2 linked regions of the Homo sapiens genome follow. The protein of the gene in region 2 interacts with the protein of the main gene of each other region in a pairwise test. Each region holds a gene or a part of one and is shown on either strand. Other genes may lie near its edges. The genes, in order: BBS4 and FHOD1.

Region 1 (3,815 bases), on a different chromosome or scaffold from region 2:
CAGTCTTGACATCCTAGGACCACCAAATCAATGCCAGCAACTACTTACCTGGACATCTTGTTTCATGAGAATTAAAAAAAAAAACAAAAACGAATTTGTAAAGCCAATGTTTAGTCAAATTTTCTGTTGCATTTACACACAATCCTCAATTGACACAAAGAGAAGGGGAGGGGAAAAATAAAGAACTACTCAAAGGCCCTGACCCAAAGAAAGGCAAGGGTCTTCAGAATGAAAGAGTCAATTGAATGTCACACAGATGGGGACGGGAAAAAGACATGAAACACAACTAGATGCCTATTGCTGATACTGTGGAATTCCAATGACGAAAAAAATACCCAAAGCTTCTAGGGGTCATCAACAAGAATCAGACTGGTAAGAGACTGCTCGTCAGCAAACTGCTAGAAAATCATGCAGCAATGCCTGCAAAGTTATGAGGAAACATGGTTTTTGATCCTATACTTATACAAATCATGAATTAAGTATGAGGTTAAAATCAAGACATTTTTGGAATGTAAGAATTCAGAAATAAGACAGCCAGATGATAAATGGAACCATTAGCAAGTTTACTAATAAGAAAGAACTGAAAGTTCTCTACTTACCCAATCTTTCTGGTTGAGTTTAGCTGCTTCATTATATACTTCAATGGCAGCTTTATGTTTTCCCAAAAGAAATCTGTAAAAGATATATTTTCCATAATTATTACCTCAAAATTCTTAGAAGACTAACCCTACTAGTCCCACATTTTAATCATATTTCATCCAGCAGAGAATTCTAGAAGCCTTTTCTCTATGAGGTGGTTGTGCTGGTTTGGTCAGTGAAGCTGCTATACACTAACAGCAGAAGCTCTCTTAGTAGGGATTGCACTGGCAGCTGTTCCAAGGCCTTGGTCTCATTCTATACCAATTTTAGTGAGAGTCTTGTGGAATTTTTCTTCTACAATGTACTATAAATGCAGACCAAAAAAGAAATAAGCCTAATGATATACCATGTTAAGCAGTAACTACCATCATTTATCATCACCCATTAGGGACACATCCTTTCCTTCCAAGACTAAGTCTCTTTCCTTGATATTGGATCCTGAGTTTAGAGAGAAACAGGGAAAACCAAGCTCTATGCAAAAACAACACAGGTATGAATGGCAATGTGGCTAAGAAAGGGGAGATAGGAACTCCATGGAACAAAGGACTGAAAAGGGAGTACCTAGTAGTTTATAAACACTTGAGATTCTTTCCATCTAGGAATCTTTAGGACATTCACTCAACAAATAGAGATGCTCCTCAACTTATGATGGGGTTACATCCCAGTAAACCCATTGTAAATTGAAAACACTGTAATTCAAAAATGCATGTAATACATCTACTCTACCAGACATCATAGATAGCCTAGCCTATCTTAAGCATGCTCAGAACACTTACTCTGTTCCATGGAGTTCCTATCTCCACTTTCTTAACTACATTTGCTGACAGTTAGGCAAAACCATCTAACACAATGCCAACTTTATAATAAAATGCTGAATATCTCATGTAATTTACTGAATACTATACTGAAAATGAAAAACGGAATGGCTGTATGGATACTTGAAGTACAGTTTCTACTGAATACATAACAATTTTACATCATTGTAAAGTTGAAAAATTATGTAAGTTGAACCATCAGAAGTCAGGAACTCTCTGTCCTTACTAAAAACTTACTGTGTGACAAATACTAAGTGTTAGAAGAGTAGATGAGAAAAATTCCAAGGATTGCCAATAAGTTTAGAAGACTTAGGGTACAAGGTGTCTCTATTTACATGATAAACAATATTGGTCCCCCATCAAACTAGAATGCACAGTGTTTAAAATGCTTAGTTCCTTAACACTAGTTATCTCATTTTCTCAAATTTCAAACTTAATCCATGCTCTTCAGAGTGAATCCCACTGTACCTATTAAACCATTCCCCCACTTGTGTATCAGGCTGATGCAGCTGCCAGCAGCAGGCTGGACCTAGGAATGCATTTTACACTGTTCTCTGTGAGTGCCCTAGGGCCTCCAGGTTGCCAATACTCACAAAGATCTGGCCACCTGCTTGAGGTTATCAGCACTCTGAGGACTAAGAACTGCACATGTCTGGAAGAGTTCTAGGGATTCTTGGATATTTCCTTCTAGGCGAAATATCAATGCTGCCAAGAAACAGAAAATACAAAAAAAAGTAAAACCATGTTCTGGGAAGAATGGAGCCTGGGGTCAGAAAAATTGGAGAAGAGAAAACTGGGAAACCACATCAAGTAAATCCTTTGGACAACTGTATCCTTAAAACAATCAGATATGGCTTTGGACAGGCTGAAACAACAACCAAAACTGCTGACAAGCTCAACTGTCTTTTAGCAAGGTAGCTCAAACCTACCTACTTCTCTCTCTACTCCCAGGATCCATCACATAGATAATCAGTTCCTTTGCAAATTATCACACAAACTCTTCACATTAACAACATTTTGGGGCTTCCCCATCAGATGCTTCATTTATCATAATTTACTTCCAACTGATAGTTTTCAGAGCGAACCCCCAAATGGGGCAAATGGAATCAATACCTCAAATTCAACATGGAGATTCTGGCAAAGGATAAAGTAACATTTAAGACTTCAGTTGTCAGTGTAACAACCAATTAGAACCAGAGGTTTTTCCTAGGCCTATGTTTCCAGAAGAATTTATCAGGCACTGAAAGTCTGATACTTGTGACACTGGGAATAAGAGCATTTTTTGCCATGATGTCCTAAATTTGTCAATATCTTAACAATTATGTCAGAAAATTATATGTTAATCTGAAGACTACAAATGCAATGAATGGTAAACAAAACCATTTATTTACACCCAAGAGTCAAAAAGAAAGTTCCTGGAAAAACTAAGAATGCTACTTATGCCACTAAAGAGGAAAATTTAAGTCAGTGGGCCAGGTGCAGTGGTTCATGCCTGTAATCCCAGCACTTTGGTAGGCCAAGGCAGGTGGATCACCTGAGGTCAGGAGTTCGAGACCAGCCTGGCCAATATGGCAAAACCTTGTCTCTACTAAAAATACAAAAACTAGCTGGACATGGTGGCATGTGCCTGTAATCCCAGCTAATAGGGGGGCTGAGGCAGGAGGATCGCTTGAACCTGGAAGGCAGAGGTTGCAGTGAGCTGGGATCGCACCACTGCACTCCAGCCTGGGCAACAGAGCAAGACTCTGTCTCAAAAAAAAAAAAAAAAAAAAAAAGTAAGTGAGTGGTCCTTATCTTTGGTTTCTAATGAGCTGAATTTATGCTCTGCTTTATCTTGTTTATTTCCAGGCTTCTTCCCCTCATCCTGATTCACCTTACAGAAATCCTCAAGCTCTTCTTCATCTCTTTTAGCTTGATTACAAGCAATCCTTCCAAAAGCATCTTTTGGCCCTGAAATCACTGCATTAGGCAGGAATCCTAAGCATCCATTCCAAAAAACACTAGCCAGAAACTAAAAAATGGGTAATCATAGCAATTTTTTAACATTACTAGTCATTTCTGAAGTCAAATCCAACACAGTAATTATATTCAGATTCCATAAAAAGATTAATACTGAATAAAACCTTTCTGGAACATTTAAACTCATGCACCTGTAATGACATTTTGGTCGACAGCTGTATAAATGATGATGATCACTTAAGATTATAATGAAGAGGAAAAATTCCTATTGCCCAGTGACGTCATAGCAATCAAAACAGTGCAATGCATTACTTACCTATCTGTAGTGATGCTGGTATAAACAAACCTACTGTGCTGCCAGTCACATAGAAGTACAGCATATACAATTACATATATATAGAA
Region 2 (3,815 bases):
CACCTTGTTGATGAGGGTGACCGTGTACACCAACAACTCAGGGTCAGCGCCATTCTTCTCCTCCAGGATGGACACCAGATTGGCCCAGGGAGGAGCACCTGCCACACAGAAAGTGGAGCAGTCATGGGGGAACAGGTAGGAGAGAGGGCTCTGAGCGGTGGGGGGAGAAAGGGACAGTCTCTGACCGGTGGTGCTGGCCACAGAGTTCACTGCACGGATGAACAGCGGTGCGTTGTTTTCGGAGTATTCTACAAACACCAACAGCAGCTTCAGGGCTGTCTTCACCACCAAGCGGGACTGAGGAGAGAGGTCAGTACATATGAGTGGGGCTTAGGCCAGACCTGTGCCAGCTGTTGCTGGGGAAGGGGAAGGGCTGCTGGGGCTGGACCCAGAGAGAATCTAGGCAGAATGACCCTGGCCCCAGGCCCAGGCACTGAAGTGCCTTATAGGCTTACAGAGGCCTCAGACTCACTCCCTTCCAGCTCACTTTGCAGAACAGGAAACTGAGGCCCAGAGAGAAGCAACAGGCAAAGGGTATAAGGCTGAGTGGAGAGCCACTTACCAGGCTGGCACACAATGTGTACAGCCACTGAATAGTGTCACTGTGGGCCACCACCCCCAGCATTCCATCCACAAAGAGCATCAGCTGGCCGAGCGCTGGGGAAACAGGGATGGGCAGAGTCAGCGAGGGTCGCTGGAGCAGAGGTCATGGGAGAGGGGCGGGGCTGACCTCTAAGGATGTAGCTCTGGTAGTTGTGGTCGGCAGCAGCACCCACACGGATCAGGCAGCTCAGCCCCTCTGAATGCACAAATTCAGGCACCAGGTCTTTGTCCTCCTAGAGGCACCATGGGGGAGTTTAGGGAAGCTTGGGCTACACACTTACCCCCAGCCCACTGCGGGGCCTCACCTGGAAGATCTGCTTCAGTGAGAAGAGGGAGCGGCGGAGCTCAGGACCACTGGAGCTATACAGCTTTTCTGCAAAAGGTAGGGTATAAAACCCTTGATGGACACAGACTCACTGTCTTCCTCTGCTTGGATACAACCACAACTCTCCACCAAAGAATAGTCTAATATATATGTTTTGGTCTGAGAGACAGGGTCTCACTCTGTCACTCAGGCTGGAGTGTGGAGTGCAGTGGCACAGTCATAGCTCACTGCAACCTCAAACTCCTAGCCTCAAGCAATTCTCCCACCTTGACCTCTCAAAGCACTGGCATTGGAGGCATGAGCTACCACGCCTGGTCTATTCTAACATTCTTGAATCCCCCTCCACTCCCACCATGGCCCTGGAAGAAGAGGTCAGGATAGGGAGAGGAAGGAGCACATACAGCTAAACCTACTTTGCTCACTGTTCAGCACAGGCCTGAAGGTGAGCCAACTGGGCTATGGGGAGGAGGTGCTGCTGGACATGGATGCTCTCACACACTCACCCAAGATAGCGTTGACCCTCACAGAGAGCTGGGTCCGAAGGATCAGCGTGGGCTTCCGCCCTTTGCTGGAATCAAGGATCTCTGTTAGCAGCTCCCAGCCTATCCCTCAGCATTCCTCCCCACAAGCCAAGGGAGCCAAAGACCTCCCCATGCCAGCCCCAGCCCAGCTTGTTCCTCCCAGCTGCTCCTCCAAGAACCCAAGGGTTGGTCGGACAAGAGGGTTGGTGCAAACACATGTATCTCAGGTATGTGGGAGAGCCCCTAACTCCCACCTTGGGCAGCAGGTAACACTGGCCAGGCTTTAGAATTCCCCTGGCACACTTCCCTGGGGCAGGAGGTGACCCATGGCTCAGGCTAGTGATCGAGTGTCTCAGCTGCTGACATTTGAGCTAGCCCCTGGCAAGGGTGGGGGTAACCTTGCCTCCCTGGCCCCATCAGTTCTGACCTGATCTCTTCATAGAAGCCCTCCAGCATCTCCCGCTGCTCTTCCAGGGACAGCTCGGTGTCCAGGTAGTATCCGGAGGGAGACACTTGCAGAGCACAATCCTCCAACTGGGGGCAAAGGGAACAGCTGTGAGACTGAGGAAGAGGTGGCAGGCGAATGTATGAAGACCCCTGACCTCTTACCTACCACTTGAAGGGTGGCAGAGAGACACAGGGTCTGCACTACAGCTGTGCATTCCTTCAGCAGTTGCTTCTCAAGCACCTACTATGTGCAAAGCCCATCTGTGTCAGGCACCAGGCTTTCTTGGCCTTTGTTTGTACCATCTCCTCTCCTGGCTGATACCTACCTATTCTTTAGGTTGCTATGCAACCCACTCCACCCTGTGTGTATGCTCCCTTTCGAGACCTTCCACACAGCATTCTAATATCCGAGCCACTGGTCTCCTCTAGCTGCGTTCTCTGCGTTCAGGCACTCCGTCTGTCTTGCTCCCTGCTGTATCTATAGAGCCTGGCATAGCACCTGACACACAGTAAGCACTCACTAGGACTTGTTGAGCTAATAAACACAGATGAGGAAGGGGAATGGAGAGAAGATGGGAGGAAGTTCCTGCCTTCGAGGAAGCTCACAGCCCTGTGGGGTGATAAGCTATAGTCACAAAGCATTAAGCCCCAGAAAGAAAGTGTTAAGATGGCTGGGAGGTGCAAACCCACCCGGGAGAGTGTGTCTGTGTGTGTGTGTGTCTCAGTGAGTAAGAGGGTGAAGACAGGGTCTGATCCATAGACTTCCCAGTCCCACCAGATTTCAGGGTCTTTGGCCTCTCCCAAAGTGGGCTACAGTTACAATGGTCCTAGCTGGACCTCAGAGACACCCAAGGGGCCTATTAAAAAACTAACTTTAGGCCAGGCGTGGTGGCTCACGCCTGTAATCTCAGCACTTTGGGAGGCTGAGGAGGGTGGATCGCCTAAGGTCAGGAGTTCTAGACCAGCCTGGCCAACGTGGTGAAACCCCGTCTCTACAAAAATGCAAAAATTAGCCAGGCATGATGGCGGGTGCCTGTAATCCCAGCTACTGCTGGGGAGGCTGAGGCAGGAGAATTGCTTGAATCCAGGAGGCAGACATTGCAGTGAGCCGAGATCATGTCATTGCACTCTAGCCTGGGAGACAGAGTGAGACTCTGTCTCAAAAAACAAAACAAAACAAAACACTTAAGAGTCTGACTCAGTCTACAGTAGGACCCCAAAGCCTGCCTTTGTAACAAGCAGGCACATGCTCCATCCACGTGTCCATGTTTCCCTCCCCGGGCTCTCCTCCCCCGCCACAAGGCATGGCACTTAGCCCCTTGAGAAGTGCCTGTAGAGAAGCCTGAGGGAGGTGACTCCTGTGAGTCGGAGGGTGGCACTCTACCTCTCCCAGACACCTCCCTCCATTGCACAGTGCAGATATGCAGGTTCAGCAAAGTCTCCTTGACTTAAGTGGCTCTGGCCCTTGAGATGCCTTGGCCCAGGGAGAGCCCACCTCTGGAGAGGCAGGGTGTCTTCTGGTCTCCATCTTACTGGGCATGTCAATTCCAACATTTGTCCTGCTGTTTGGTCAGCCCTGCCCTCTTCTGGACCCTGCCCAAGGGCTTCCAACTGGCCTTGGTCCCCTGGAGAAAAAGGGAGTCCAGCTCCTGCCTCAACCCCTACCTCTGTTTAGCAACCCTTGCGCCTGCCTCAGAGCCTGACCTGGCTCCTTCCCCACAGTTTAGCCTGTGGGGCCCTTGGATGACCCCCCCCCCCGCCCACCCCCGCCTGGGACCTGGGACATAGGACAAACACTCCAGCCTGTTCTCTGTCCCACTTCCTGCCTGGCTGCCTGCCCTCCCCAGGGTGCCTTGGGCAGGCCTGGCCACTTTCCCCTCCCTGGGAGCAGAGTCATCTTCTCCAGGGCCTACTGGGAA

What was found.
Region 1: the proteins of FHOD1 (region 2) and BBS4 interact in a two-hybrid assay, tested with the Homo sapiens proteins (one study listed by BioGRID and IntAct).

The regions. Positions count from the first base shown.
Region 1 is NC_000015.10:72,713,635-72,717,449, reverse strand, and holds part of BBS4 (BBSome complex member BBS4), read right to left. Parts: intron 2,160-3,815; coding exon 2,048-2,159; intron 673-2,047; coding exon 600-672; intron 1-599.
Region 2 is NC_000016.10:67,237,472-67,241,286, forward strand, and holds part of FHOD1 (FH1/FH2 domain-containing protein 1), read right to left. Parts: intron 1,984-3,815; coding exon 1,877-1,983; intron 1,497-1,876; coding exon 1,432-1,496; intron 1,415-1,431; exon of another isoform or gene 1,342-1,414; intron 977-1,341; coding exon 909-976; intron 837-908; coding exon 731-836; intron 658-730; coding exon 563-657; intron 298-562; coding exon 186-297; intron 99-185; coding exon 4-98; intron 1-3. UniProt on the Homo sapiens protein: Required for the assembly of F-actin structures, such as stress fibers. Depends on the Rho-ROCK cascade for its activity. Contributes to the coordination of microtubules with actin fibers and plays a role in cell elongation.